Regions from separate parts of the Homo sapiens genome. Here region 1 is linked to region 2. The links come from fine-mapping of genetic effects on gene expression. A gene starts in region 2. The other region holds a variant in brackets. All regions are shown on one strand. Distances are between the middles of the regions.

Evidence for each region.
Region 1: its variant is fine-mapped to the expression of SOX21 in testis (GTEx, PIP above 0.99).

Annotation. Positions count from the first base shown.
Region 1 is chr13:94,757,087-94,773,709 of GRCh38, reverse strand. It overlaps LOC101927284 (a long non-coding RNA gene), which reads right to left and starts at 12,769. Exons shown (of 5, transcript NR_110754.1): 1 at 12,658-12,769; 2 at 9,159-9,302. It also overlaps the pseudogene BRD7P5 and the pseudogene RPL21P112. The variant AGTTGATTGCG/G (reference allele first, on the strand shown) is at 7,820.
Region 2 is chr13:94,704,898-94,721,520 of GRCh38, reverse strand. It overlaps SOX21 (SRY-box transcription factor 21), which reads left to right and starts at 8,976. Exons shown (of 1, transcript NM_007084.4): 1 at 8,976-11,899. The coding sequence starts at 9,472. The coding sequence ends at 10,302. SOX21-AS1 (SOX21 antisense RNA 1) reads right to left here and starts at 8,805. Exons shown (of 2, transcript NR_046514.1): 1 at 8,128-8,805; 2 at 5,576-7,883. LOC112268114 (a long non-coding RNA gene) reads left to right here and starts at 8,078. Exons shown (of 2, transcript NR_158368.1): 1 at 8,078-8,113; 2 at 8,259-8,801. LINC00391 (long intergenic non-protein coding RNA 391) reads left to right here and starts at 13,020. Exons shown (of 3, transcript NR_170286.1): 1 at 13,020-13,170. RefSeq lists enhancers at 7,751-8,252, 14,412-15,093, 13,758-15,512, 15,532-16,036, 16,037-16,541.

The sequences.
Region 1 (16,623 bases), 52 kb before region 2:
TTAGTAGAGATGAGGTTTCACTATGTTGCCCAGGCTGCTTGAACTCTTGGGCTCAAGCAATCCACTCTCCTTGCCCTTCAAAAGGGCTGGGATTACAGGTGTGATCCACCATGCCTGGCCAACATTTCTAAAAAATGTCTTTCTACTCTCCCACCTCCCAGTCAGGGACAATAGCATTCTCAGTTGGGGTAGTGTTTGTTGAATGAATGAATAAATGATTTTCAGTGTTGATGAAAATATTTTTAGAATAATAAAATAAACATAGAAGAAAGCTCATTAGATCACTTAAATCTGTGATTTTTAAAAAAAGATATGTGTTTGTGTTAGTAAACAAACAGCAAAATTATGATCAGGATAACGGGGTTATAAGTCTTAGCTGCGGACTGCTAGGTATGTTAATAGATAGATAAGAATCATCTGTAATTGACATGATTTTTGTATGCCCACAATGCCACTAACTGGTTTCTCAGGCCCTGGACAATGTTAGACCTCACTCTTAAGTAAAGAAAGTCCGTTTCCCTTGTTTACACAGTGAATTTACTCAAGGAGCACTGTCTTCATGGGTAAAACACTGGTGGCTTTACTGCTCTTTACACCTAAATTATCACAAAGTGGGAATGAATCTAAATGAGGTCATACAGTGTTTATGAACATGACATGAATTAATTTCATGAAGATAAGTCACCTTGTGATCTATATGATCAGAAACTAGTTTATTACTTTCTATATGAAAAAATAATGGTAAAATTTTGTCACTCTATCTTCTGTCTTGCCTTTCAAATTTTTTAAAAACACAATTCTACAATGATTGACGAAACTGACTTTTTAAAGAATTTCTACTTTTTATTTTTAAAAAGAAATTTGTAGTCATGAAAATATGAATATGTCACCTGACTTCTCAATAAGATCTTCATTGTAACAACTCAATTAGCTTCTGAAATGGTCTCATCTAGCTAATAACCTGCTTTCTGAGGAAATAATCAATTACTTTTGAACCAGGAAAATCTCTGATAGTAGATCAGAAAAAACATACAAACAAACCTGGAACAGGATAAATTAATAGTGTTTTGATTATTCAAAGAACATACATTATTTCAATCCAACAATCAGCTAAGAGTTCATGCCCCCTTTCTGCAGTTGAACATTAGCTTGCTAAGAGTTTTTTTTTAAAAAAAGGTACCATGAACTGATTTAGCTTGCTGCCACATATGAAATGTGGTTCTAATGACAGAATTAATCTTTCGTGAGTTACGAATTCTTTGAAATTAGAATCCAGATAATTATATGTGGGAGTCACTTCTTCCTTTTCTAATTAAGTGGATAGTATTGTCTTCACCATCCAGCTGGTTTCTCAGAAACCAAAGTTGGCTTCCATATAAATATAATTTCATTTTATGGGAAGTAGGTTCTCCCACACCACATGCCTAAGCTTCTTTAGATGTAAATGGCATGGCATGAAGGCTTGTCCTTCCAATCAAAACGTGAAACCAGTCTTTCCAAATGGCTTAATATTTAACTATTAACTACTAAGAGCAACGACTGCCTAAAATAAAAGCCCTTGGCATAATAACCATTTTCACAAAACTAATTCCTTCAAGTAGACATGTCCTAATGGACCAATAAAACTTGCCTTGTCGTGTCTGAATGCGGCATTAGCGCCTTTTAGAGCTGGCTATAATTGGTAATCACCGTTCAGGTGAAAGTGGGGGGTGGGGGAGATTTATAGAATAGTACTTTATACTGAGCTTCCACGGGGCCTTTCATCTGAAGATCTCAAAGCACTTGACAAACACTAATTAATACTCATGATACCCCAGTGAGAGAGGTAAGTATTATTATCCCCATTTCACAGATGAGATGAGGTTAAGTTGGGTAACTTGGTGAGTCAGGGACAGAATGAAGGGCTCCTAATTCTCAGTCTTGTGCTCATACAACCATTACAAGGGGCTGCCATTGAAAACATAAAAGGAAACACACCTCATTTTCAAATACCCTAAGGTGAAAACATCAATTGCAAATGGGATCACAATTAAGCCACTTGGTTTTAACAACAGTAACAACATCTTGTAATTGTCAAACTTCATTTTGAAAAAAATAGAAAATAGTATTAAAAGTAGTTTCCTTGAAGTGTAAAATAAAGATTATTTTATCATGGGAGGAGCCATACAGAAATTTATGTCGAATAATTTGATAAGGTGGCTAAAAAGTTGGATTTCACTTTTATTAGATGGTGGGTTAGATTCTTGCACAACTCTAAACTTTCTGAGGACAGATCCATCCTTTTAGAGTTTGTTTCCTAGTGTGGAGTGTAAATAGGTACATTACTCAATCAATGTTAGTTAAACCAACAAAACCAACTAAATGCCAAGGTGCTGGGGGGCATGTGAAGAGGAATAGGATAGAACTCCACCCTCAGGGGGGCTAGGGAATTAAGGAAAGACATAGAATACAAGAAAGTAATTTTAAAATTAGGGGAGAAGAGCAGGAATGGTCCAAGCATTCAGTGTGAAAACACTAAGGTTCTAGGTTCAAATTGGAACATTAAAGGTTTTGATGAGTTCTCAGAGGCTAAGACTATTGCTTTTGGAAACTGTATTAACTCTTATATGCCATCAGGGTGGCTTTTCTTCAGCTAAAGCTAATTGGCTTTCAAACAACCCATTGGGTTTTTAAATTCATTGTTTAAAATGCTGAATATTATAATAAATACTGTTTGGTCGAAGAGAAGACTTGGAAATAGCTTAGAGATGAGTAGGGAGCCAGCCATACTAGCCTTCTTTGGGTTTCTCCAAAGCCTCTCTGCCTCAGGGTCTTTGCATTCTGAATGGTAGACCATTCAGTCTACCCAGAATGCCTTTCCCACCCTCCCTCCCCACCTTCTTCACCTGACCAACTCTCACCTATCCTTTGGATTTCTGCTCAAATAGCATTTTTTGACTCTTTAGAATAGTTACAGCTTCTGAGAACTCTTTCCATATTTCCTTCAAAATAACTATCTCAGCTTGTAATGAAATATCTGGATTTTTAAAAATTAATGAATTTCCCTCTTTCTTCTACTCACTGTCTCTAATTTTAAGAGATCTATACCTGTTTTGCCTACTATTATAGCTTTAGCACACAGGAGGTCCTTAATAGAAACTTGTTGGATGAATAAACACACATGGTGCTAATTGCTGAGAAACTGGAAAGTAGCAGCATTTGGGGAGAGCTCATACTAAGAGAAAAGCAGCCTCAGTTAGTGGAGAGCAGGGCTGGTACTATCAGCGAGGCCCCAGTGTTGCTACGAGCTGGCTCGCCACCCACAGCTAGGCCATGGTGTTCATCCATTTAACATAAGCTGTTTCACAGCACAGGATACCAATGTCATTCAAGGCCATTGTTTTGTCTGATCTATCAAGACAAAACAAGAATATTGTCCAAGCCACAAAACCATCCAAACATCCCATATTCGGGCCTAGTGACTGCTGCTGCTTTGACAATTACAATGTTAGCCTTGCATTGTTCTTCTCACCTGCAATGTAAAAATGTCAGTCGTGGAATAGTCCCTCCTTCCTGACAGCAGCCTTGAACACTCCCTAAAATCTCCTAAACATGTCCCAGGCCTATAATAAGATCTTTTCAACATCCTCTTACTGAGATGCCCCATGGTGCCTCGTGATGTGAGGTCTCCCTCATCACAATGAGCCAACTGACCCAATTCCATCAATAAACCAACTTTGTGTCTCTGGTGGTCTTTGACCTGGGGACATGGAAAATACAAAGACTTGTATATAATGAGACAAAAAAAAACTGATATACAGCTGTTCAAATATGTCTCCCTTCCCAGAGAATGATTTAGGACTGGGAATGTTTCACTCCAGGAAGTCATTCAATCTGATTTTCAAGATATTATTGAAACACTGTATTAATATAGATCTTCCTAAATTATCAGATGATTTAAAAATCTCTTCACACTGGATTTTGGAAAGCAAACAATTATGAATTATTTTCATGGAAAAATTTTTAATGCGTTTTTATATATTCTTAAATGAAAATGGGTGTATGCTCTTTGGAATTGTCAATTTGAGGTAGCCAACTAGAAGAAAACAAGGTAACTTCCAAGGTTAATCTGCAAGGTACATAGACCAATGTCGATAATCAAAGACTGATTAAAGTTCTTGTAAGAAACTACTTTTCATGCTTCTCTCAACTGCTTCATGTAGGCTACCACCTCAAGGGGAAACTGTAGTCTATGCTTTTGCTATTTGTTTTTTTTCCTGTCTATTCAGTTACCTAAAGACCTAATATATTTGGGCGTTAGAATGAGAATGCATCTTCTCTATCTCTGTAATCCAATTCATTTCTTCCTAACAATTCTAGTTGCAAACTCCGCCCTCTGCCTCTTCTTAAGCAACTCACAGCAAATTCATTCAAAGCATTCCCAAAGCCAAGGGCAGATTTTAAAGGTTGTTCACAGTCAGCAGGGGCAGTGTATCTCAATCTTTTGTATCTCAGTTTCCTTTGGGATGACATAAAAATTTTCTGATTTCATCAACTGCTGGGTGTTCCCTGGAGTCCCCACTTGAAGACAATGGCTTTAGATTCTAGTACTTCTTAAGTTGATATATCATAAACCCCCCGTCTCACGTTAAGAATTATTCATCTCTTTAGAATGGAGCTTTCAGTCAAATTTGGTGTCACTCCTCAATATTCTGCTTATTGTTTCAATTTCATTAAATAATCTGTGTTTTCTGTTGCCTTATGGATCCAAAGAGAACCTTTGCCAGACCATCTTGGGAACATCCTTACCATGTGTCTCTCATGCTGCCCCCAGTTCTGGTTTAGCATCTGAATTCTTTTACCCACATATTTAACTTTTCTTGCCCATCTCATCTTGCTACTCCCCTTTCTTTCTTTGTGTATATATTGCATTTGAAGCTCAGCTTGTTTGAAACTAAACTCATTATTTGCCCTTTCCCACTTCCAAATTAATCCCTCACCACCTGCTCTTTTAAATATAGGTCTTTTTGCTAATTTGTTTCCATTTTTCTTGCCCCTAGCATTAAAGCAATTTTCAAACCCCATCAGTTCTTCCTTCACAGTCTCCTTTTTCCATTCCCTCCTTTATTCCCTTGGACTACTCCCAAGTCTGCTGTCTCTGTCTCTCTTTTCTCCATTCCATCTGCCAGATCATTGCCAAATTAGCCTCTGCTGAATATTATTTCAATCATGCTATAGCCCTGTTAACAAAATATATACAAATATAAATAAAGACACATCTACCAAATCTAGTTCGGACTCTTTAGTTTGGAGTTGGGTGGGCTACAGGGCCTCCCCTCACCCCCACAGAGAGTTTTGAAAAAAAGACAGTTTTTAAGAGTCAGAACCAGAATTCAGATGCAAGTCTTTCAACTTTAAATCTTCTATAACCTAACTACAAGACTGTGTGACTTCTTGCTAAACTTCATTTCAATATGTTTATATATTTCATTTGTAAAAAAAAAGGACCAACATGCAAAACACACACACACACACACACACACACACACACACACACCCCCCACTGTAGTACTGGAAGAGCTACATAATAAGTGTGCTTATGAATAACTCATTAAACAAAGACCACCTCTTGACATCCTCTTGTCTTTCCTCTCCATTCCAAGTTTTACCAGCAACACAAATATTTGATACTACAGCATTTTTACAAATTGAAGGTTCGTGTCGATCCTGCGCTGAGCGAGTATATCGCTCACTTTGTGTCTCTGTGTCACATTTTGGTAATTCTCACAATATTCAAATTTCAAAGTTTGAAATATTTCAAACATTTTAATTATTACTATATCTGTTTTGTTGATCTGAGAGCAGTGATCTTTGATGTTACTATTGTGATTGTTTTGGGGTGCCATGAGCTATACCTATATAAGACAATGAACTTAATTGATAAATGTTGTTTTTGTTCTGACTGCTCTACTGACCATTGTTTCCCCATCTCTCCCCCTCCTTGGGTCTCCCTATTCCCTGAGACACAGTGATATTAAAATTAGGCCAATTAATAGCCCCTACAATGACCTCTAAGTATTCAGGTGAAAGAAAGAGGTACAAGTCTCCCACTTTAAGTCAAAAGCTAGAAATAATTAAGCTTCAATGAATGAAGGCTGAGAAGGGTAAGGAAGCTGCAGAAGAAAAACTGACAGCTGGCAGAGTTGGTTTGCGAGGTTTAAGGAATAAAGTTTTCTCCATAACATAAAAGTGCAAAGTGAAGCAGCGAGTGCTGATGGGGAAGCTGCAACAAGCTATCCAGAAGATCTAGCTAAGATCATTGATAAAGGTAGCTTTGCTAACAAATTTTCAGTGGAGACAAAACAGCCTTGGATTGGAATAAGATGCCATCTAGGACTTTCATAGCTAGAGAGAAGACAATGCTTGGCTTTAAAACTTAAAAGAAGAGGCTGACTCTCTTGTTAGGGGCTAATGTGACTGGAGACTTTAAGTTAAAGCCAATGCTCATTAACCATTCTGAAAATCCTAGGGTCCTTAGGAATGACACTAAATCTACTCTACTTGTGCTCTGAAAAGGGGAAAATAAAGTCCAGATGACAGCACATTTGTTTAAAACATGGTTTACTGAATATTTTAAGCCCACTATTGAGAACTACTGCTCAGAAAAACATTGCTTTTTTCCAAACATTACTGCTCATTGACAATATACCTGGTCACTTATGAGCTCTGATGGAGATGTACAAAGAAATTAATGTTGTTTTCATGCCTGTTGAGGTGGTTTGGGTCTGTGTCCCCACCCATATCTCATGTGGAATTGTAATTCCCAGTGTTTGAAGTGGAGCCTGATGCAAGGTGACTGGATCATGGAGATGTTTCTCATGAATGGTTTAGCACTATCCCCTTCGTGCTGTTCTGGTGACAGTGAGTGGGTTCTCATGAGATCTCGTTGTCTAAAAGTGTGTGACACCTCTCCCTTTGCTCTTGCTGCTCCTGCCATGTAAGACACCTCTCTCCCCCTTCACCTTCTGCCATTATTGTAAGTTTCCTGAGGCCTTTCCAAGTCATGCAGATGCCAGCATCGTATTTCCTGTACAGCCTGCAGAACCCCAAGCCAATTAAACCTCTTTTATGTATAAAATACCTAGTCTCAAGTATTTCTTAAAGCAATGTGAGAACTGACTAGTACATCTGCTAATAGTACATCCATTCTACAGTCCATGGATCAAAGCAGTGTATGTAATGTTGTTTTTGTGTAAGAAAGGGGAGAGGATAACAACATGCTTTCAAATTTGCTTATATCTGCAAAAAGAACTCAGGAAGAATGCAGAGGAAACTAAATGAGTAGTTGTTCATAGAGAAGTGGAGGAGATGAAAACCAGAGTAGAGGTGATGACGCAGCCCCCAAATTGGGGCTTAGCCTGGGAAGGTCCGTGGTTTCCCCCAGGAAAGAATTCAAGGGCAAACCAGTGGTATTAGCAACTTTTATTGGACCAACAGTGTACAGCAGCAGCAGAAGTACTGCTCCCTGCAGAGTAGGCCTACCCCATAGAAAGTGTGCCCAGAATAGCTGCTCAGACGCAGTGCTGCAGTCATATTTATACCCGTTTTTAATTATGTGCAAACTAAGGGGCAGATTATGCAGACATTTCTAGAAAAAGGATGGTAACGTCTGGGTTGTTGGGTTGTTGCCATGGAAAGGGGTGGTAACTTCCGGTTGTTGCCATGGCAATGGTAAACTGACATGGCACACTGGTAGGTGTGTCTTATGGAAAGGTGCTTCCACCTCCTCCCTGTTTTAGTTAGTCCTCAATTTGGTCCGGTGTCTGGGCCCTGCCTCTGA[AGTTGATTGCG/G]TCCTGCCTCCTGAGTCACGTCCTGCCTCCATCCTCAGTAAGACCTCTCAATGTTTACCCTGTTAAAGCATTTTGATATTTGAATTGTACAAATGTATAACTCTTCAAACCAAATCCAACAAATAAAGTCTCTAAAGAAAAATATATAACTTTTTATAATTCTAGGAGTAACACCTACTTACGGAATATTTTAAAAGAACAGGGATATAAAAGCAATCCTTCATAATCCCATTTCTAGAAATAATCACTGTAAAGATTCTGGCATATTTCCTTTCAATCTCCCATGCAGATCTCCATAAATATTTGTGTCTATACTTACAAAGTTGAGATCACACTTCAATACACTTTTGTACTTTGCAGTTAACACTTGAGATAATTTTACAAGCATTTTATTATGTCATTTAAAACTCTTGATAATAATCATAATCTTAATATTCATTCTTCAAAAAACGTTAATAGTAAAGTCCATTATTCCTAACCATTGATTAAAAAATTCATTCCTAATTAACTGTAGCCTTAAGGCTTCCCTCAGGTTTCCCAAACAGGGCACATGCAGGACAATGCTTTCAGGACATCTTTGTCAGAGCTCCCTCAGCCATGCTGAAATGCTGTTTTGCCACATTAACAGGGAGCACCATGGGAACCACTCTAGAGGGTTTGTTAAGAGGAGAGGAGCTCAGAAGGCATATTCATGGAATACACAATTCTTGAACTTCATCAATGCCCAGGACTGTTGTCATTGTTGACTGACACAGTGCTGGGATATTTCACTACAGGCATACCTCAAAGATATTGTGGGTTCCATTCCAGACCACCACAATAAAGTTAATCTCTCAGTAAAGTGAGTCACCCAAATATTTTGATATCCCAGTGCATATAAAAGTTACATTTACACTATACTATAATCTATTAAGTGTACAATAGCATTATGTCTGAAACAACAATGAACATATTTTAGTTTTATAATAATTTATTGCTAAAAAATGCTAATGGTCATCACCATCTGAGTCTTCAGTGAGTGGTAATCTTTTTGCTAGTGGAGGGTTTTGCCTCCATGTTGATGGACGCTGACTCATCAGCGGGTGGTTGCTGAAGGTTGGGATGACTGTGGCAATTTCTTAAAATGAAAAAAAAATGAGGTTTGCCACATCAAATGAGTCTTCCTTTCATGAAAGATTTCTCTGTAGCATGCAGTGCTGTTTGATAGCATTTTACCCACAGTTGAACTTCTTTAAATATTGGAGTCAATGTTCTCAAGCCCTGCAGCTGCTTTATCAACAACATTTATGTAATATTTAAATCCTTTGTTGTCATTTTGACAATACTTACAGGATCTTCATTAGGAGTAGATTCCCTCTCACGTAACCACTTTCTTTGCTCGTTCATAAGAAGCAACTCCTCATCCACTCAAGTTTTATCATGAGACTGAAGCAATACAACTACATCTTCAGGCTCTATTATATATTTTCTCCTCTGCAAAAAGAGTTATGAAATAATTTTAAAATTTAAATGATTTTAAAGTACTTTTAAAATTTAAATGATTTTAAAGTAAAATAATTTGTAGTATACACTGAAGGCAAAAAGTGTTATATAAATGCTAAATAATAATATTGTAAAGCCCCTATATTCTGTGATAATGAGCACTATATAAATGCTAAGTGGAAAAGAATAGAAAATGTAGTGTTTCGAAATGGCTTATAAATGTATCAGGTTTCTTGTGTTTCATATGCACTATATATATAGGACTTGCAGCAAAAATGCAAAAGCAAATACTTATCTATTTTAATAATTGTATAGCTGTACTATTCATTATAACACTGTGACTCTCTAAATCATTTTGTACCTAAGAAGAAGAGGTCTTTTCCTGTTAGCTATTACTGTGAAACAAAATACCCCAAACCTTAGTGGCTTAAGTCATCAAGCATTTTATTACCTCTTATGATTCTGTGAATTACCCAGGCTCAGATGCCTGCTCCATATGGTTCACCTGAGGCTGGAGTCATTTGGAGGCTCAATTGGTTGGACTACCCAAGATGGCTTACTTGCATAGGTGGCAGTTGCTCATAGTGGTTGGCTGGTTGCTCAGTTGGGAGTCAACTGGAGTGTCTCAGTTTTCTTCTACTGGCTTCACTGTAGGGCTTGGGTTTCTCATACTATGGTGGCTGGGAACATTCCAAGCAGACCAGTCCCAATGTACAAGCAGCTTACTGAGCCTCTGCTTGCACTGTTTGCCAATGACCCATCAGCCAAAGTAAGTCATGAGACCAAGTCTAGAGTCAGTGTGGGGAGGACTATATAAGGCATGAATACCTAAAGGTGTGGTTAAATCAGAGCCATCATTGTAATAGTCCACCACAGAGCCATAGCCAGCCTTGAAAATATCCTCGTATCCCTGAGTGGCACAGAAACAGATGGGACCCTTGCCATCAACACCATCATAGCAAAGATCTAGAATAGAAGGTTGCAGGGCTTACAACAATCATTCCATACAAGGCACCTCAGTGATGACCTGTGTGGAATGGTAATGAAGGACCAGATGGGATAATAGTGACCCTAATACAAAATAGAACCATCACACCCATGGCACTCTATAACTCTCATGTATTACTTAAGAATACATTCAGCTGCAAGTAGCATAAAAGACAATTCTAATGACTTTAGAAAGAGACCTTTATTTCTCTCACATAATAAGATGTCCAAAAAACAGATGGTTACAAATTGGTTCTATAGTTCAACAATGTGTTTGTAATTTTTGGCTTTTCCTGCATGGTCATAAGATTGCTGCCCCAGCTCCAGGGATCATATCTGAGATCAAAGCAGGAAGAAAGAAGAGGGAGGGAGGAGCTAGCATCAAGCCATCTGAAATCAAAAGCTTTGCTAGAAATTTCCAGCTGACTTCTTCTTATGTCTCACTGGCCAGAATTGGTTACCCCAGCTGCAAAGAAGGCAAAGAAAAGGAATAGTCAGCTGGCACTTCGCTGCTCAATATGGTATCAAGAGTCTGTAAATAAAGGAGTTGGGGTGGGGGCAGTTATATTGGTTAAAAAAAAGTGTCTGTCTCTACCCTAAAACTTAGAAAAACAACCCAGAAACAAACTCAAAAACAACCCAGAAGTGTCTGAGATAAAAGCAGCTATAACCTTGATAGAATGAGATCTTGAAATCCGAATTAAGTTATTTTAAAGAAAAACAAAGTTACATACAGCTGCTATGATTAGATAATATCTCTGAAGGGTTATTCCCTGGCACATAGCAAGTGCCAATACATGTTAGCTGTTGTGGTAAATATGATGTAATAGTAGTGGTGCTGAAGATATTAATTATTATTACAACTGGCATGAGATAAATTAAGGTTTCCCTATTCATCCAACAAACACTTATTGAGCTTTTTCTTCATACAAGAACCTTTACAATTCAAATCTTAGGAAGCAAAGAGTTTAGTGGGTGATTCATATTATTAGGGGAAAAAACATTTATTTTGGATGCAGTATTAAGAGGAAAAGATAAGTGCTTTTGGAAAACATTCCTAATGATTCAGAATGCAATTCATTCTCCTTAAGAACATACCTATGGAGATGGAAAACACTGTGGTCTCAATTAAAATTTTTTTTGTGGTGAAAAGCACATATAACTCAATTGAAGGTCAGGAGTGCTGGCTCATGCCTGTAATCCTAGCACATTGGGAGGCTGAGGCAGGAGGATCACTTGAACTCAGGAGTTTTGAGACCAGCATGGACAACATAGTGCGACCTCATCTCTACTGAAATTAAAAAAAAAAAAAATAGCTGGGCATGATGGTGCATGCCTGTAGTCCCAGCTACTCAGGAAGCTGAGGCAGGAGGAACACTTCAGCCTGGGAGGTCAAGGCTGCAGTGAGCTGTGTTCACACCATTGCACTCCAGTCTAGGTGACAGAGTGAGACCCTGTCTCAAAAAACAAACAAACAAAAAAAAATTAAAAATATTCAATTGACCATCTTAGCCATTTTAAAGTGTACAGTATAGTAATAAAAAGATATTTTTGTTGCAGTAACATTTTCAGTAAAAATAACAGTAAATATTTGATTGGAATAAGGAAATATATAATATAGACCTGAAGAAAGAGGGAATATCAAACCTGTCTGTTTTGGGCTGTTTTATGATTTTCTTTAACTTGGTTTGACTTTTCGAGTCAGCAAAAGATTAAAGTTGATACAGAAACACACACACATCCCCCCGGACACACACACATTCCTCTGTTGGAATGTCTTGGTTATGGAGATGTGTCTGCTCTTTGTAATAGAAAAGGACACAGGTTTACTGCTAAGCCCAGGCAGGTTTGCTGGGCCAGCTCTAAGAGCTCAGAATGAAAACACAGAAGAAAAAATCAAAACAGGTAACATGCCCCAAAAGTGCACAGAACTTTTCTGAGTGTAAGAGAAGGGAACAGGGAGAAGAGAATGGGATGGAACTGTGAGGGGTGGAATGCCAGGGAGGATTAACAGGATGGATTTCAGGAGGGAACATGAGAGAAAACAAAACTCAAATGATGGTTTGGCATGATCCAAAAACAACAGATAGAAGGTAAATAAATGTTTCCTTAGAAGAGAGAACCTTGAAGTTTCCCCAAAAAAGGAAGAAAAAATGAAGGGAAAGAAAGAGAAGCAAAGGAGATGGGGAGAAAGGGGAAGGAAGGGAGACATCAATAAAGGCAAAAGCCAGAGAAAACAAGAAGCAAGTCTAACAGTTAGAATTCGAGTCCCAGAAGAAGAAGAATGCAAGAAATAGCACAATTCCAGGCAAGGAGAAGAGATACAACACTCAGGTTACTTTTAAGAAGAGGAAAGTACCTTTTGGCCTCAACTCCCAGCTTCCAGTAATTTGATAAAATGACGAACACAGAGGAAAGAAGAGAGGCAACTGCTGAGGTCCCCTAGGCCTTTGAGAAAACGGAGTTGTACCTTTGGCAACATAAGTGCATATCTACAAGAAAGGCGATAATGTAGACACCAAGGGAATGGGTACTGTCCAAAAAGAAATGCCTCACAAATGTCACCATGGCAAAACTAAAAGAGTCTACAAAGTTACCTAGCATGCTGTTGGCATCATTGTAAACAAACAAGTTAAGGGCAAGATTCTTGCCAAGAGAATTAATATGCATATTGGGCATATTAAGCACTCTAAGAGCCAAGATGATTTCCTGAAAGTGTGTGAAGGAAAATAACCAGCATAAAGAGGGAAGCTAAAGAGAAACCTGAAGCTGCAGCCTGTTCCACCCAGAGAAGCACACTTTGTAAGAACCAATGAAAAGGAGCCTGAGCTGCTGGAGTCTATTAACTGAATTCATGGTATAACAGGTGAAAAAAAAGAAGAAGAAGAAGACTTCTGGATTGTAAAGGAAGAAAGAGGAAGAGAAGGAGGAAGGGAAAGAGCAGGCAAAAATAAATTTGAAAGCTCTTTGAAACCACAAAATATGGTAAAATGAATAATTTTAAGAAGAGAGTACACTGTAAATCACATCTTAATATTAATATTATGTAAAAATTATGTATAAAAGCTAGAGATAAGTCTGTAGAACTCAAAGAGAAACAATGTAAACATTAGTACAAAAAAATGAATGCAATGTAGTTATTCAAATGTAGTTCAAAATATGTAAGATAAGGTAGAGAAGATATTAAATCATTAATAAGAATTGGGGAAGAAAAAAGAATCAGATTTCAAATTAAGCATTATATTAACTAGGATAATTCAGGTATCCACTAGGACCTGATAATTCAGGTCTCCATCTATGACAAACCCACAGCCAATATCATACTGAACAGGCAAAAGCTGGAAGCATTCTCCCTGAGAACTGAAACAAGAGAAGGATCCCCACTCTCATGACTCCTATTCAATATAATACTGGAAGTCGTAGCCAAAGCAATCAGGCAAGAGGAAGAAATAAAAGGAATCCAAATAGGAAAAGAGTGAGTTGAATGATCTCTCTTCATAGACAATATGATTCTATACCTAGAAATCCCCACAGCTTCTGCCCAAAGCCTCCTAGAATTGATAAACAACTTCAGTAAAATTTCAGGATACAAAATCAACGCACAATAATCAGTAGTATTTCTATACATCAAAAACATCCAAGCTGAGGGCCAAATCAAAAATGCAATTCTATGCTGCAGAAGGATAGTGTATAATAATAATAAAAGAATACAATTCTATTCACAACAGCCACAAAAAGAATAAAATACCTAGGAATACAGCCAATCACAGAGGTGAACAATCTCTCCAACAAGAGTTACAAAACACTGCTGAAAGAAATCAGAGACAACAAAAACAAATGGAAAAACATTCCATGCTCATGAGTAAGAAGAATCAATGTTGCTAAAATGGCCATACTGCCCAAAGCAATTTACAGATTCAGTGCTATTCCTATCAAATTACCAACATCGTTTTTCACAGAATTAGAAAAAACTCTTCTTAAATTCACATGGGTTGAGAGGGACCTCGCGCCGCCCCCTTGCCTCCGGCGCGCAGGGCCTCTAAGGGGCCGCTCCCGCCCTGCGCGGGCCTGGCCTGGACCGGAAGCTGCGCTGCGTGCCTGCTCCTGGCTCTGGGGGCGGGCACCGGGGCCAGCTGGACAGGGGCAAGAAGCACAAGGAGCGCAAGTCAGACAAACACTTCTATGAGGGGTATGTAGAGAAGCCCTTGAGGCTGGTCCTCAAAGTAGGAGGGAACGAAGTCACCGAATTCTCCACGGGCAGCTCAGGGCACGACTCCAGCCTCTTCGAAGGCGAATAAGATCATGACAAATACAAGGACAGAAAGCAGAAAAAGAGAAAGAAAGGAGAGAAGCAGGATCCAGGGGAAGAAAAAGAGAGAAAACGGAGGAGAGTTAGGGAGGATAAAAAGAAGCGAGATCGAGACCTTGTGGAGAATGAGGCAGAAAAAGACCTCCAGTGTCATGCCCGTGTGAGATCCTCTCACAAGCTCTTTAGCCAAACAAGAAGAAGTAGAACAGACACCCCTTCAAGAAGCTTTGAATCAACTGATGAGACAATTGCAGAGAAAAGACCCAAGTGCTTTCTTTTCATTTCCTGTGACTGATTTTATTGCTCCTGGCTACTCCATGATCATTAAACACCCAAGGGATTTTAGCACTATGAAAGAAAAGGTCAAGAACAATGACTACCAGTCGATAGAACTAAAGGATAACTTCAAACTAATGTGCACTAATGCCATGATTTACAACAAACCAGAGACCATTTATTATACAGCTGCAAAGAAGCTGTTGCACTGGGGGATGACTATTCTTAGCCAGGAAAGAATTCAGAGCCTGAAGCAGAGCATAGACTTCATGGCTGACTTGCAGAAAACTCGAAAGCAGAAAGATAGAACAGACTGGGGAGGATGGAGGCAGAGTGGGGAGGACGAAGGCTGCTGGCCCAGGGAGAGAGGACTCTGGAGATGCCGAAGCACAAGCCTTCCAGAGTCCCGGCAAAGAAAATTAAAATATAGACAAAGATATGCTTGAAGATAAGTTTAAAAGCAATAATTCAGAGAGAGAGAGCAGGAGCAGCTTGACCAAGTTATGAAGGAATCTGGAGGAAAGCTGACCAGACAGCCTGTGAACCGTCAGTGTGAATTTGAAAGAAGAAAACCAGATGGAACAACAACGTTGGGACTTCTCCACCCTGTGGATCCCATTGCAGAAGTGTGAGACTTGAATTCTGGACCTACAGTTCTTATGCACCACGTATGACTCCACGTTTACAAATATCAGCAAGGATCATTCTGATTTAATCTATCCAACCTATGGGGAAGACTCTGATCTTCCAAGAGATTTCAGCATCCATGAGTTTTGGGCCACATGCCAAGATTATCCATATGTTATGGCAGATAGTTTACTGGATGTTTTCACAAAAGGAGGGAATTCCAGGACCCTACAAGAGTTGGAGATGTCATTGCCTGAAGATGAAGGCCATACTAAGACACTTGGCCCAGCAAAAGAAATGGAGATTATAGAACTAGACCCAGCAGGGCATCTGGACCCCAATACTCAAGACAGGCTCACACACTGAAAGTAGTAAACTTTGGCGCTCCAGTTGAAGTTTTTGACTCTGAAGAACCTGAAGTATTCAGAAGAAACTTGATGAGGCCACCAAATTGTTCAGGGAGCTCCAGGAAGCCCGGAACGAGCATTTGAGCACCAGACCCCCTCCCAGTATGATCTGTCTCTTGGGTGCCTCCTGCAGAGAAATGCATCTCACTGAACAAGTGACCAATAATCTTAAAAACTTGCACAGCAAGTAACTCCAGGTGATATTGTAAGCCTGTATGAATTTCAAAAAGCAATGGGGATTTCCATTCCTTCCCCCAGCATGGAAAACAATTTTGTAGATTTAACAGAAGATCTTGAAGAACCTAAAAAGATGGATGTTGCTGAGTGTGGACCTGGTGGGAGTTGAAGCACATGGTATTTGATTATATATTATGTATATACTTTTTCATTCTTAACTTAGAAATGCTTTTCAGTAGATATTAAATATTTGCAAATTGTGTTTTTAGTTAAACTTTGGAACAGTGAATTTGAATGTTCCAGAGGGGAAAAAAATAAACAAAAATAAATAAAATTCGCATGGAACCAAAAAAGAGCCCGAATAGCTAAAGCAATCCTAAGCAAAAAGAACAAATCTGGGAGTATCATATTATCCGACTTCAAACTATACTACAAGGCTACGGTAACCAAAAAAAAACAGCATGGTACAAAAACAGACACATAGACCAATAAAACAGAGAACCCAGAAATAAAGCTTCACATTTACAAC
Region 2 (16,623 bases):
CCTGGGTGACAGAGTGAGACCCTGTCTCAAAACAACAAAAAATAAAAAGTAAAATAAAAATGGTATCACAAGATAGCAACTTACAAAGTCAGTATATAAAAATTAATTGTATTTCTACATACCAGCAACAAACAGAAAATCAAATTCTTAAAAAGACACTATCTTTTAAAAAAGGTATCATCTTGGCATGGTGCCATGGCTCACACCTCTAATTCCAGCACTTTGGGAGGCTGAGACAGGCAGATCACTTGAGGCCAGGAGTTTGGGACCAGCCTGGCTAAGGTGGTGAAACCCCATCTCTACTAAAAATACAAAGATTAGCAGGTCATGGTAGTGGGCACCTGTAGTACCAGCTACTCCAGAGGCTGAGGCAGGAGAATCTCTGGAAACCAGGAGGCAGAGGCTGCAGTGAGCCCAGATCAAGCCACTGCATTCCAGCCTGGGCGACAGAGTGAGACTCCATCTCAAAACTATAAAATATATAAAAAAAGATATCATCTTAAAAATACGCAATTTGTAATAGTATCAAAAATACTTTAAAAACCTAGGAATTTTAAATGTGTAAGAACTTTACCAGAAAACTATATTACTGAGATAAATGAAAGCACAATAGAATTTTTTATTTTTTTTTTGAGATGGAGTCTCTGTTGCCCAGGCTGGAGTGCAATGGCGCGATCTCAGCTCACTGCAACCTTCACCTCCCGAGTTCAAGCGATTTTCCTGCCTCAGCCTCCTGAGTAGCTGGGATTACAGGTGTGTTCCACCACGCCCAGCTCATTTTTGTATTTTTAGTAGAGATGAGGTTTCACCATGTTGGTCAGGCTGGTCTCCAACTCCTGACCTCGTGATCCACCCACCTCAGCCTTCCAAAGTGCTGGGATTATAGGCATGAGCCACTGTGCCCCTCAGAACAATGAAATTAATGGAAGGATACTAAGTTCGTGAATTAGAAGTGTTAACAATGTGAAGATGTCAATTCTCCCTAAGTCAGCCTAGAGATTTATAGCAGTCTTGATTAAAAGGTTTTTAAAAAAAATAATCACTCCTGTAATCCCAGCTCTTTGAGAGGCCAAGGCGGGTGGATCACGAGGTCAGTTCAAGACCAGCCTGGCCAAGATGATGAAACCCCATCTCTACTAAAAATACAAAAAAAAATTAGCTGGATGTGGTGGCAGGTGCCTGTAATCCCAGGTACTCAGGAGGCTGAGGCAGGGCACTGCTTGAACCCGGGAGGTAGAGGTTGTAGTGAGCCAAGATCTCGCCATTGCACTCCAGCCTGGGCAACAGAGCGAGACTCCGTCTCAAAAAAAAAGAAAAGAAAAGAAAATCAGTTTTTAAAGAATATTTGGGGGCAGGCATGGTGGTTCATGCCTGTTATCCCAGTACTTTAGAAGGCTGAGATGGGAGGATCTCTTGACCCCAGGAATTCGAGGCCAACCTAGGCAACATAAAGAGACTCCATCTCTACAACAAATAAAAAATTAGTGGACATAATGGGACACACCTGTGGTTCCAGCTACTTGGGAGGCTGAGATGGGAGGATATTGAGCCTGGGAGGTCAAGGCTTCAATGAGTCATGATTATGCCCCAGCACTCCATCCCAGGCCACAGAGTGAGACCTTGTTTCAAAAGAGAGAGAGAGGGAGAGAGAGAGAGAGAGAAAGTATTTGGAACCTGACAATCTGTTCTAAGATTTATATAGAAATGCAAAGGCCAAGAATAGCCAAGATACTTTTGAATAAGATGAAAATGATGGGAGAACTTGCTCCTTATCAGAATTAAGATAGTGCAATATGGTGCAAAAATAGAAAAAATTTTAAACATAAAGCAAAATAGCTCAGAAACCAACTTACATCAATTTTATTTAGGGCAAAGGTAGCACACATGTGTGGTATAAAAATGCAATTTTTAAAATTGATGGTTCTAAAAAATTGACTATCTATATGGAAAAAATGTCAAACCTCATACTATACATAAAAATCAATTTCAGATGGATGCTGGTAACACAGAAATGGCTCCTATAAGACCAACCCTCCTATAAATAATAAACTTGGGACAAAAATATAAAAACCCCTGAATGCCTAGAAAAAAAATCAAAAGTGAACAGAAACTCAAAGGGATCTACATGGAAAAAGGGTAAAGCACAAGTGGGTTTCCCATTTTTACAGCTTTTCACTTGTACACATGTCCAACAGTAGACACAAACAAGAATGCATATAGCAGTCAGTTCATAATGGTTAAAAACTGAAGACAACCCACATGCTCATCAACATGACAGTAAGCAATAAACTGTGGTATATTTACATAACCAAATATTAGTAGCAGCTAAAATGAATAAACTACAGTGACATGCAGTAACATTGATGAATCCAAAGTTATACAATAAAGATTATATACAAAAGTTAGACAATAAAGATTACATACAAAAAATTTAACTTATGAAAACTTCTATGTTAAAAACACAATAAAATAAAAACATATTTTTAAAGCATACATCTAGATGAAAAACTATATAAACTATTCACAATAGCAAAGACTTGGAACCAACCCAAATGTCCATCAATGATAGACTGGATAAAGAAAATGTGGCACATATACACCATGGAATACTATGCAGCCATAAAAAAGGATGGGTTCATGTCCTTTGTAGGGACATGGATGCAGCTGGAAACCATCATTCTCAGCAAACTATTGCAAGGACAGAAAGCCAAACACCGCATGTTCTCACTCATAGGTGGGAATTGAACAATGAGAACACTTAGACATAGGAAGGGGAACATCACACACTGGGGCCTGTTGTGGGGTGGGGGGAGTGGGGAGGGATAGCATTAGGAGATATACCTAATGTAAATGATGAGTTAATGGGTGCAGCACACCAACATGGCACATGTATACATATGTAACAAACCTGCATGTTGTGCACATGTACCCTAGAACTTAAAGTATACTAATAAAAAATAAATAAATAAATAAGTATGCTATATGTATTGTTAAAAAAAAGAAAGCAAAACTATATAAAAATCAATGGAATGAAAATAGCTACATTGGGTTGGGGAAGGCGAGTGCAGAGTTTACTGGAGAGATCATTTAGTTAGGTTTATTGGCAGATTTTATTTTGAGTGGTGGACTCATAAAAGCACTTGTTAAAGTATTAAATATAACTAACTAAAGAAAACTAGGCCATTGATGGACCAATTATGAGAGTGAATCATGAGTCACGAACTGTGATTAAACCAATTTTGTGTACTTGGGGTTCACAAAAGAAAGGTAGAAAGGGAGGGAAAGGCCGGACATCTAGGGTTGGGAGAAAATAAAGACTGAAATTAGATAACATTGTTGGAGCAGCCTTTGGCTATCAGAGAAAGGGTAGAGATTGGGTTTATTCAGGGCAGGCAATTGTTCAGTGTTTGCAGCGGGAGGCCTAGGGAGTGAGTGATGGTGGATTGCAGCTGACACCAAATCTGTGCTGAGGGCTACATGAGCAAGGGGAGGCCTGGCCCCAGAACAGCAGGGATGGGACTTAGAGAAACTGCTTCTTCTGATTGGGGTGTCGTTGTTGTGGGGTTGGAATGCCTTACTGGGGAGATTGCCACTGGGCTACTCCCTCATAGAGGGAGTGGGGCGCTGAATGAGTCACACAAAGCTTGGGGAAGTAGATAGAATTGAGAATCTGCACTGGAAAGGGGCTGAGCCTTCCATTGGGACTCTAAGTGCTGGAGGTTAAAAACATCAGCTTAGTTCAAATCCCAATTCTTCCTTTTATGGTTGTGTGACTTTAGGCAAGTTACTTACTCATCTGCTCTAAGGCTTCGTTCCCCAGTCTGCAAATTGGAGATGGTAATGCTTACATCACAGGGTTTTCCTAAAAGTTAAATAGAATAATGTGTGCAAAAGGTGTGGTATCTTAAAACTCAATAACTGATAGCTATGTATTTTTTTATTCTTTTAAGAAGCAGAGCCACTCAGCAATTTAGCTCTAAAGCAGACCCGTCCTTAGATAGGAACCTGAATATGAGTGGGAGGAAGGCACAGGGCTGGGCAAGCCAGAAGCTGGAAGAGGGGGACAGTCAGAGTGACTTCTGTAAAGCCAGAAGCATGGCTTATCTACCACCCTGCTGGGATATTTAAGAGAACCCCCTTTCTCAGGTTTGTTCTTCTCAAAATAAACGGGGGCATGGTTGGTGATTCATCATTCACAAGGAACCCCACCCTACCAAAAGCCAGTCTCCTCATGTAATAGCTACAGAAGGCTGGAAGTTTTCACTACCCAGGCCAATGACACCCTCACTATCCAACCCTCCTCATTCATTTCTAGTTTTATTCAAGATTAGCTCCCTCTCACTTACAAAACAAAAAAGGTTCTTATCCTAAGAAAATTATGCTTTTATAGGATTCTTGGGATTTGACATAGGTACTTTGTGAAGTTGTCTGTTTTGAATTATTTGTATTGTCTTTTTTCTCTTATTTTTTTTTTTGCGGGGGGCAAGAGGGGACTGTTTTTGACATTGTTTTTCCTGCTCTATCCTCTAGGTAAGGCTCCTTTTGAAAATGTCAGCCTGCTTGAGCCCTGCTCAGGAGACATGAGGAAAGGTGTTCTCCATGATTGATCTGTATATTCCCAGTTTCCAAGTGTGGCAGTAACAGTGAGAATAAAAGGACAGAAATCTCAAAAGGATAAAAAAATTAGCAGGCACTGGTGAAGGGCCACTCTTACAGCCGTTGCTTTCCATCATGACTTGACCTCAAACAGCTCTTTTTGTCTCTTGGGCTTTACGGAGATCATGTGTTTGGGATTTTTCCCCCTTTTGGGGGCTAATAGGAGTGAGACCAGAGAACTGTGGCAAAAGCCTCAGGGTTGGCTGTTGTCACAGTCTTCTCATTTTCTTCTTAACAGGACAAACAGGCTATATCACCTCTCTATGCAGGTATGAAAGCTTCTGAATTCTTCCACTGCACTTGCTTAAGAACAGATCTCCAACATTCTCTAACAACAGCTGTCAGCTCTCAGTGTCCATGAATGATTATTTGGCCTCTGCACTTTGAAGGTATCACCTTCACTGCCCATCACTTCCATCTAGTCACCTCTCATTACCCCATTGGCTTGCTGCTTTATCATCCCTATGGTTCTAGAAAAATGTGACAATGAGCCACCTAGGTGAAAATCCAATGAGAGAGAGGAGGATGAAATGATGGGGGACAATGATTCTGTTCACATTGGGACCCAAGAATTCTCCCCTCCCTTGTGGAAGAGAAAGCAAGCAAGCCAGCCTGTCGTGTTGCCAAGGTATTTTTTATTCCCCAACAATCTCATTGCTGCCTCCTAGTGAAAGTTTTAGAATTGAAAAGAGACTATTTTCTGGGGAGAATTGAAGGGGGAAAAGAGGAAACTCAATTTACACAGGCCCACAACTTTTTCTGAGGGAGTGTCACTCAGTTTCCGACTAGATACATTTGCGATCACATATATCACTGTGGCCGCAAGGGAAATACAGACCCACACGAATTCTACCGATCAAATCTATACTGTTCTTTAGGTGTTTACAATCAAGAGTTGACAAAATAAAGCTCATCAAACTTACAATTCTCTTTCAATTTATTTTCCTTCACTATTCACTCACACAGACTATTCCATTTCCTATATGCTGGGATTTTTTTAATCTTTAGGACAAAACTGAGCAAGAATAAAAATATACCTCTATCAATTCAAACACAAGATATGAGGAAATTAAAAGCAAATTTACATTTTGGTACATATGAATGAAAATGGCTTGAAAATTTACTTTGTTAAAAGCTCAACCAGATTCAGGCAAGAGGTGTGAAGGCTGGTTAATAACAGCAATGCCACATTGCCTTTCTTTAATGAATGGCCGATTATGAGGGCTCTTTCTTTGGTTGTGAAGGGTTAGGCCAAGAATATTGATCCCCTAGAAGCCAAGAACTAAAACCAAATCTTTCCTATTTTGAAATGTGGGAAGTTTCATTTGGTGAATAGACAAGCACACAAATAGTCATTTTCTTCTTATGACACCTTTGTTTCCCACAGTTCAACATTCTTGGACTTGAGAGTGTTCAAATTTGGCTCATTTAATATCACTAGACAGACAATATTGTAAATGTATACTGGAAAAAACTATAGCCAAGGAACCTTACATATATTATTCCTATAAGACATTGCACATGTAAGCATACATTTCAATCATATATACAAACATTTCTAATGTAATAATTTATTGCAGTAGATTTTTACACTTAAATTTGAATAGTATAAAATCACTTAACTCACTAATATAAAACACATTTTCACAATCCTTCTCCCTTTTTATGTGTCAAAATAATTTTCACGATTAAATTTAACTTTATTCACAATATTTAGTGAATAACAGATTTCATGTTTTGTGGCCTATATATACATATGTTCTTTATGTTCCAGTGTATAGTATTTTTGTCTCAAACCTATAAGTCAGTAGGTGAAAAGCTCAGGGACGATAATTTTGTAGTTTATCATCACAAAACAGTATATTTAATATTCCAGTCTATGTAATTACACATGCTAGTGTTTTCCCATTGCTCCAGCCAGAGTCTGTGAATGACAAGAGTGTCTTTACAGAGCCTGTAAAGGAATATGGTTCTGGAGAAATCAGTCCAATTATTTTAACAATGCAAGGGCATAACCGATACAAAATAAGCTTGTCAATACGACATCTTCAGAAAAACAAAAACCCACATAGATGCCACTGCTGTTCACAGTTTTGTTATCACGACTGTAATTTTTAAGTCACTATTCTTTTATTAAAATGAACAAAACAAGCCTAACTTTTACATAAATCTGATGGCCTGAAACAGTTTTAATTCACGTTCATAATTACAATCAAAGCTTTTGTGTGTGTGTGTGTGTGTGTGTGTGTGTGTGTGTGAATGAACTGAACATAAATCGTAGGAAGACTTAAAGAGTTAACCGTTTGTAGATGTTCCTACTTGCACATACCACAGGGCTAGGTCAAATCCAAACTGCCAAAGAAAGAAGGCAAGCAAGTTCTCCCTGAAGGGCAGGCCACCATGTGAATAAAACCTCCAGACAGATCATGTTCTAAATGTGCCGCAGCATACCAAAAAGTGAGGAAAATACGGAAACAGAATCATGCTGTTTGACTTCTGCATCGTGTTAACTATTTTTTTTAAAAAACTGCTCTAACTACTAAAGAAGGAAATTATGCTTAGCATAAAAATATTCCAGCACTGAGTGATTGGTACGTTTTACTTCTCTCTTCCAGGGAAACTACTTACACTTATTGATTTTAAACACCTTCACCTCAGCAGCGCATGTAAGTGAGACACTGTAAGTTAACTGTACCTTAAAGAGATCAGTATATAGATGGTTCTGGCGACCAAGATTACAACAAAAGACAAACAACACAGAATTTTTAAAGAGCTGAATAGTCAGTCAAGGATGCATACTCTCAGTCTGGGCTAGCTCTTTTTTGGAAAGGTTGCCAAGAATGTCCTTATTCCCTCCAGAGTTATTTTTCACTCCACTACCTCTGACTAGGTGCATCGCCAGTGCAAGAAAATGCGAGAAGCCTCTGTTTCTGTTGCAAGCAACACCTGGACCTCCAAGGAAAATGAGCACTTTCTTGCTAGGAACAGTCTCAAACATTTTCAAGGGTGAGTCTCCCCTTCTCCAGGTTTAACCCTCTTCCTCCGTAGCTGGAGAGGCTCTCCTACTCGTGCCCGCCGCCTTCTTCCTCCCGGCGAGGATTCCAGGGCCACAACCAGGGCAGCTGCACGCCAGGCCGGCCTGGGTAGCCGGGATGACACCAGGGTTTGCCAACGCCAAACAGGGCGCAGACTCCCCGGCGCGCTCCGGACTCTCCACTCGCCTAAACCTGCTCTCAAGTGAAAAGGAGTGGGAGGAGGAGGATTGGGAGGGGGCGGGGGGCGGAGGGGATCTGTTAATTCGAGGTCCTGGGGGTGTGGGAGCGGGAGGCGGCTCCGCTGATCCCTCCTCCCTCCCCGAGTCCTGGGCTCCACCTCCTCCGCAGGCCCCCAGATATACACACACAGCCGCGGCTGGACATGCACACCCAGTGCCGGCTCCGGGCGCGCACACATGCAGGTAGCCACACTCACCTGAGCCGGTGCAGAGGGCGGCCTGGGCTGGGAAGGGGCCCCCTGCGCCGCGGGAGTGGGGAGAGCGGGAGGTGCCACAGCGCGGACCTGCGAACTGAGGTGATGGCCCGTTTTCCTTAACTCTCCTGCAGCACCTCCGCCCCTGCGCCGGCTCGGCTCTGGCCACAGCAGCGAGGACAGAGGGGCCCCGGGCGCGGCGGACTCGCGGGCGCACGCTCCCAGGAGCGCGCCGAGAGGGGCGCCGCGGCGCAGGAAACTTGGGCGAAGTTAGTTGCAAGTGCCAGGCGGCTGCCGAGAAGAGCGAGGCGGGGACGCGGCCGGTGCCAGGCCTGCGGCGCCGCGTGGAGGCTGCGCTGCCCTCCGCGGCCGGCGAGCTCCGGGAGCCCTAAGTCGGCAGGCGCGCCTGAAGGGGCTCGGAGCGAACAGAGCCGGCATGGCCCAGGGGACGGCCGGACGCGGCTCCTCGGCGAGCCGGGAGAACTTCCTCTGAGGCCGGGCGACCAACGCTTGCTCAAGCCTCATCCACCCTCCTTCCTCGCCCCACCCGTCAGTCCAGCAGCGGGAGAGGAAGACTCGAGAGGCAGGTGCTGCGGGGGACAGCTCCCCCCTCCAAAAAAAAAAAATCACCCAGCCGATTGGGGGTTTCCCATCGGCGCACCCTGCCCGGAGCCAAGAAGACAGGCTGGTGCTGCTGTATTTGTATTTATATCCATTGCTGCGCTCTGCGTTCTCGTGGCACGCCTGGACACTCCTCCGCCTCCCCCTCCTCTTCCTCCTCCAGGGCCACCTCCCCGCCTTCCCCACCCCCATCTGCTTCTGTCAAATGAGAAAGTCACCGAGGAGAACCCAAACACTCCAGCCGCTGAGAGCCCCCTTTGGCACTTGGCAGCACGCGGCGGCGGGCTCCTCGGCTCAACTTCGAGGAGTCTCCGCGACGCAACTTTTGGGGACGCTTTGCATTTAAGAGAGAACGACCGAGGAGGAGGAGCGCTCTGCCCGGCCGCCGCTACCTGCGGGGAGCTCACCAGCAAACGCCACTGCAGACGAAGGACCCAAAGAACGTAAAGGGCAAACTGCCGCCGCGGGGAGGGGGCACCGCCGAGAAGTTAGAGTGTCCCAGAGACAACCTGCTCGAGCGCTCGGCCGGAGACACTAAGGCGGCCCGGGGCGCGGCGTGGCCCTGGGCTGGTCCCCCAGCCCCCTCCTCCGGGGCGGGAGCGACGCCGGGGCGCGACGAGCCCCGGCCGGCCGAGCGGGTCTCCGCGGGCAGCCAACATTGATTTCCTCCGGGCCGAGGGCGAGGGCCCGGGAGGCGGCGGGCTGCAGCCGCGGCAGGGCGAGAGCATGTCCAAGCCGGTGGACCACGTCAAGCGGCCCATGAACGCCTTCATGGTGTGGTCGCGGGCTCAGCGGCGCAAGATGGCCCAGGAGAACCCCAAGATGCACAACTCGGAGATCAGCAAGCGCTTGGGCGCCGAGTGGAAACTGCTCACAGAGTCGGAGAAGCGGCCGTTCATCGACGAGGCCAAGCGTCTACGCGCCATGCACATGAAGGAGCACCCCGACTACAAGTACCGGCCGCGGCGCAAGCCCAAGACGCTGCTCAAGAAGGACAAGTTCGCCTTCCCGGTGCCCTACGGCCTGGGCGGCGTGGCGGACGCCGAGCACCCTGCGCTCAAGGCGGGCGCCGGGCTGCACGCGGGGGCGGGCGGCGGCCTGGTGCCTGAGTCGCTGCTCGCCAATCCCGAGAAGGCGGCCGCGGCCGCCGCCGCTGCCGCCGCACGCGTCTTCTTCCCGCAGTCGGCCGCTGCCGCCGCCGCTGCCGCCGCCGCCGCCGCCGCGGGCAGCCCCTACTCGCTGCTCGACCTGGGCTCCAAAATGGCAGAGATCTCGTCGTCCTCGTCCGGCCTCCCGTACGCGTCGTCGCTGGGCTACCCGACCGCGGGCGCGGGCGCCTTCCACGGCGCGGCGGCGGCGGCTGCAGCGGCGGCCGCCGCCGCCGGGGGGCACACGCACTCGCACCCCAGCCCGGGCAACCCGGGCTACATGATCCCGTGCAACTGCAGCGCGTGGCCCAGCCCCGGGCTGCAGCCGCCGCTCGCCTACATCCTGCTGCCGGGCATGGGCAAGCCCCAGCTGGACCCCTACCCCGCGGCCTACGCTGCCGCGCTATGACCCCGCGGGGCCGCCTCGCGAGGACCGGTGTGCACACGTGTACATATGTATAGGTACGAGCGCTGCGGCCTCCCCGTGCGCCCTCCCGCGACCGGGGGCCCGGTTTGTATGTACATAGAATGTATAGGTGCCAGGTAGAGGCAGAGAGGCCAGGCGGGGCAGGAGTGGCCAAGCGCGCAAGGGCGCGGGCGAGCAGGCCTGTGAATTCGCAGGATCATTTCAGACCCGCACTTCGGCAGCCAACTCGAAAGCAGGCGGTTGTGTGCGGCAGCAGTTGGCGTTTGCTTTGCACTTCGGAACCTGTTGCGTTTTGACCCACGGAGGTGGAGGAGTAACTTTTTGACATGTTGGCCTTTCCAGTTTTGTTGGAAGTTTCATGGTCGGTTTTGTTTTTGTTTCTCATTCTTCTTCCTCGCCCCTCAGCCCCCCAACCCCCAACCCCCTCCCGGTCCGTGTTGCATGCACGCTGTTCAAATGTGAGGTCTGAAATGGCTGGCACACGGGAAAAGCTGCTTGTGTCATTCGTTTCTGGGAGTGGGATGGCTCTGAGCAGCCTCGCCTCCCTGTTTGTACTATTTGAACTTTGCAGATCTCTGTTCTCTCAAGCAGAACTCCCAACCAGATCCATTCTTGACCAGTGACCGGCTCGAATCTGGCCTTTTGTGTGAGATGATCACGGTTTCTTTTGTTTATCACGCCATTTGCAAATCAGAGCAAGAGCTCTTTCTCAAGGGCAAGAAACGCAAACAAGAAATATTTGTGAGATGAAAGTTGTCAATTGGATTTTCTTCCTAAACAAACAACAACAACAAACTACTAGAAGTCTCCCTGAGTCCACTCGCTTGGATTTCTGACACAGTTTACAAAAAAGGAAAAAGGCACTGCTCCTATTTTCCCTTATGGCTGAGTTCACCTTAAGATTGTAAATGTGTATATGTCAGTGAAAACATTGAGGCTTGGAAAATGTGTTATTTTCGTTGCCCTAAGTTTGAGTCGACTTTAGACTCAAAAACATTTTGAGCGAATATCAAAGTTAACTTTTAAAAATTGCGAAACTATTTCAGAATCGCAATTTTATCGAAGATTAAATCAGACTTTTTTGTCTGGTAATTATATATTTATTATTTAGCAAAACTGAAGAAAAAAAGCACAGAATTGTTTCAACAGATGTCTCTCATTTTCAGCTAGCATTTCTCTCCCAAGTTGAGCTGGTTTAATGTGTTTTGGATTTCCCTCCTCAATTGGCTTATTTTTTAGATCACCTGCAATTCATTTGCAAATTGCAATAAAACACATTTTAGAAAAAAGGAACCTTCAATTATTAGCTTTGTTTCTTTTTAAATGTATATATTTTGACTAATGTTTGTGAATGAAGTTGGCTAACATGTATTTAGTTTCATTTTGGCTTTATGTAATATAAAGTTTTTAAAATTTTAAATATGGTTTTAACCTTTATGTGTAAATGATTTTCTAGTGTGACCTTCTAATTTAATATTAGACGTCTAAGGTATATCTGTAAATTAGAATCCGACTATCACTCTGTTCATTTTTTTTGAACAAAGAGTTTAAATAAAGCCTGAACCAGGGAAAAGAAAAATCTTCTATTTCTTGTTGAGTTCCTAACAAGATTTTTATCTGAATTGCCCTTACGTGCCTGGTCCAGGTGAAGTGTAAGGTATCCTCCAAAGGCACCCTTTGTTTCACTTTTGAATAGATTTACTAGGAAATCTAAATCAAGCCATTGTTATTCAGAGCCAAAAACCTGATTTATCACATTTTTAATCGTGAATAGGAAAGAAGATTTTTAAAAAGCCCAAGTCGTTGTATTAGCTTTAACAACAACAAAAAAAAGGCATTCATGAACCAGTAGAACAGAGCCCATTGAAAACATCCAGACCTTTCAAAGCATTTCACCAGTTTCTAGTAACATTTTAAGAGGGGAAAGTTGCTTGACCACTTTATCTTGTTAGTTGAAGAGCCCCACCACTTAAATCAGTGTAATTTGTTCTCCTATCTTTGGGGTATTCCTTGTTGACACCTTAAGGTTTTATTTGGAAGGATAATCACTACTAACGACAAAGTACAAATTTTGGCCTCTTTAGGACTTAATTTTGTTATGCTAATCGCATTAAAGTAGAAGTATAACATTCAAATGGAGAGGGTTGGATTTCTAGGGCTAGACAAATTGCTACTAAAGTTTGAAAAATCATAAAGGATTTTAATTTTAGACAAGAAATAGAAGACTGTCAGAAAAAAAAAAATAGGAAGATCTCGCCCCCCCGCAACCAAAATGGAAATTCTCAAGATACTATATACAAGTCTTAAACCAGTTTCCCCATTGAGACCATCTCTGGAGCTGCACGTCTTTATAAACGACCCAAGTCTTTAAAGTCATTGTTTTCCCCCAACGGAATAATATTTTAAAAACCATGAAAAGTTTTGGAAATGTGAGAAATAGGCTCTGCTGGTTTGACCCTGATTCACTAATTAAAATGATCCCTCTCCTGTTATTCCCTGAGCTCTTTGCAATATTATAAGTTAATTCATATGGTTCTGAGCGATTATGCAAAACTAATTTGGACTGTCCAGGGGTAATTATCCCTGACACGGTTAATTAAATCCTTTCAAGGCTTCGTCTTTCCCTTTTGTAGCAGCCCATCCCTTCTCAACACGGAACTTCCTGCGGCTCGCTGGAAATCACCCCAGCCCTAAATCTTAGTTACCACCCTGAGCCTTCCAGCTCGGCCGCCTCCTCGGCCTGAAGACTCCCCGCCTCCTCCCGCCCCCTCCCCTTTTCCCAAAGATCAGCGTTTTCTGGGAGAAACGCTCCGGAGTTGTTGATGAATGAGAAGAGGACTGGAAAGATGGGTAAGAGGAGGGGTGAGGATGCCGAGGGGGAGCACCGAGGTCATATCGCCAACAGATTGTGCGGCTGTTTGAGGACCTCCACAGGCCCCACAGACTCGTTTATCACCCATTCTGACTCCAATGGTCTTGCTAACAAGTTGGCGGGTTTTGCGCCTGCAGAGAGCCTCCTGCCAAGTTAGACTGTGCAGAAGTAAGGGGTTGGAGCGGGGGGAGCGGCTCCGGGGCAAGAGGGCGTAGAGAAAGGCCCGGGGGTGGGTGGTGTAAGCGTCTGAAAGTGGCCCACAAATGCAGCGCTGTGATTGGGCAGAGAGCTGCTGCTGGCTCGCGATCTCTATCTCCATCTCTTTATCTATCTCCGTCTCTCTCCCTGTTTCTCCATTTTTCTTTCTTTCCTTCTCTCTCCTTCCTTCCTTCCATCTTTCTTCTTTCCCTTCCTTTTATTCTTCTATTTTCGTTTCTTTTCAAGGTTTTTTTTAAAGCCATGATGCAATTTCTTTGGTATTCACCGTTGTCCCAAAACTTGAAGCAAGCCTCGTATCCAAGGGGCCAGGCATGTTGCTTCGGGCTTTGTGCAAACAGGTGGAATTGCGCTGTGTAAGCAGTAAGAACTGGTGCTGGGGACGCTGTCGCGCGAGGGGGTGGCTTTGGGAGAGCAGGGTTGCTGGCCGCGATTGTTACTTCCCTTGACAATTTCCTCCTCCCCCTCCCCCAAGAAGATAGGAGAAAGCACCGCGGATCTCCCTCTCACCCCAGGCTCGGGGCGCAGAAGATGGAGAGAAGATTCCACTCTCCCCGGAGCAGATAGGGACGGTCGCGCCAGCCAATCAGAGCGCGGCTCGGCGCCGGCGCTCCCGGCCGCCTGGGCCGCCGTGTCCTCCAGGCAAGCGAAGTTCCCGCAACTCGTCCGCCTCGAGGGTCCGCGTCTTTCTTGCGCCCGCGGCCCAGCGGAGGCCGAGGGAGCCGTCCAAACTTTATTAATCTCTCCTCCTTTCTTTCTCCCTCAGCCCAGTGCATCTCAAAGGTCAGCCCTCTTCTTTTAAAAGACTGATATTATTAATGCACTGACAATTCCTCCCCCCCTTTTCTTTTTTCTCTCTTGCAGGGGGGAAAAAAAGGGAAATGGTGAAAAGAGCTTTTTTTATCCTTTTTTTTTTTTTTGTCCTTCAGTGGGAGCGTTTAGACAGTCGAGGAGGTTTTGTCCGAGAACAAAACGCAGGGTTGGGAGGTTTTGTGAGAGTGTTGTTTGTTGAAGTGGAGCTAAGAAAAAGCGGCGGCTTTCTCCTCATTGTGAAGAAACCAATCAGTGGTATTTGGAAAACTGTTAGCATTGTGCACTTCTTCTGTGTCCATTGTGAGGCGTTTCTTTTCACAAGGTTTTTTTTTCAGCCGATCCAGCTGGCCGGAATGAATAGCGGTGCAATGTGTACACGCTTTGTCCCTCCGGCCTTCAAGTAGCCCCCATTGAATAGACTAAGTTGACACTGCGTGACAGTGAAACAACATAATAAAAAATACATGAGCCCCTGAATAGGAGCAGGCGCATAAATAAATAAAATGGGTGACCAAAACTGGATAAACTGAATGACAAAACGGTGAAAGGGGAACAAAAAGATATTTAACACGCTAGATTAGCATTAGAATGCGATCTACAAGGCAGAACAATTGATGAATAGGTTTACCGGCCAAGAAAGAAATGGACTAAATGCCCTTTGAATAGATATGCTTTTTGCAAGGGCTTTGAATAGATATGCTTTTGCAAGGGCTGAATGGGAAAAGGTAAAGATGAAGCTATGCAAATGAGCCGGGGAACTTTTTATATATATTCTTTAAACACACACACACACACTGCGGGGGGAAGAGTGCTGCCTCGGGATGTTTATAGAAGCAATAATTGCCATTATTAGCATTGTCTGCGGCAGATAGAAATTGAACAGGTTGGGATAATATAGGGTAGCAGTAATTATTCTTCTAATTAATGGTCCTTTGCTACTTGAAAAAAGAAAAAAGGAAAGAAGTAGTAAAAGTTATGCAGAAGTTATGTTTCCTTGTGTCCATTTGCCCAGCGCTGGAATCTGTGGAGCAGGAAGCCTGGCAATTCCAAGATACGCGATGATCTTCAAACATTCCCGGGAGCCAGTCCTGAGGCTCTGGCTTCAGGGCCTAGTTTCCATTTATGCCGCGTTTTTGAGAGTCTAATACTGTGTCTGGCACATGGTAGGTGCTCACTGAATAGTCGTGGTATGAATGAATGAACGAATGAATGAATGAATGAATGAATGAATATAAGTTTAATGGGGGAAACCCGGGCCTCCTAATAAAGGTAGGGGCTGGGGGATACCTAGGGGCTTCCCCAGGAGGATTTCTTTTTTCATCATCCCACCCCTGGGAGAAAGGTCCACGCAGGATGGTCGCTTCCCCCTTGCTGAGAGTTTTGCCTTCAGCCTATCTGGGCCGCTGGAAAAGAGGAGAAGAATAAACAAGAGACAAGCAACTACTCCCCTACCGGCGTTCCGTCCTTGTCCTCACTGCCAAATCCACTCCAAAGCCGAGGATGGTGAGACTGTGAAGTTGCAAAGAAACACAGAGCCCACCCCCTTAAAGAATTACGATATATTTAAAGTTTGCCTCTTTCAGGTTTCTCTCCTTGGCTCCTGCCCCTTTCCCCTCCCGGCTCCTTGTCCTTGACTGAACCTCATGGGACAGAGAACCTCCTGTCCCCCACGAGGCAAGGCGCGAACCCGCAGAGATCTGGGGTGCCCTTTGGTTCCCTGCGCTGCCCTGGAGGCGTCCATAGAGGCCTTTGCCGCCAAGGACAGCAATTGTTTTATTTTCGATGGTTGCTCGCCAGGCCTGCGGGTCGCGGGCCCACCCAGCCGTCGAACTTTCCAGTCGTTATCAGCGCTGCTCCTAACTTAATGGAATAATGCAAATTATAGCCTGCCCAGCTGACACGTCCCTGCGAATGCGCCGGGGCTGAGCTCTGGCCAGCCGCTCTCTCGACGTCCTGGACGGCCGGAGGGAATGAAGCTCTGAATTGTGACAAAAGTGGGGGGGGGGCACCCCAAATTCTCAAAGCAATGTTCTTTTTTTTTTCTTTTTTCTTAAGCAATTGAGCCTTACCAAATGTCGGGGCCGCACGGAAGCCTTGCATATTTTAAAGTGTAACCTGAGCCTTCGCGGTTTCAGCTTCACTTAAAACATGCAAATTCTTGAAATTGAAAAATCTGAAAAACTTCCGAAGAGTTCTATCTGAATAAATCCAAATCCATTGGGAGTCGCTTTGAGGAGACAAAACGCACAGCGATTTGGGGTGAGGGATATTTGTGGGGAGGCAGGACGTGCTGGATTGGGTTTCCAGGGTCAAGGTGTCTCTGGGCCTTCGACGATAGCCTTAGCGCAGAGCAGGGAAGTGGCACCGCTAGGCAGCAAGCTCAGTTGCTCTACTTTTGTGAC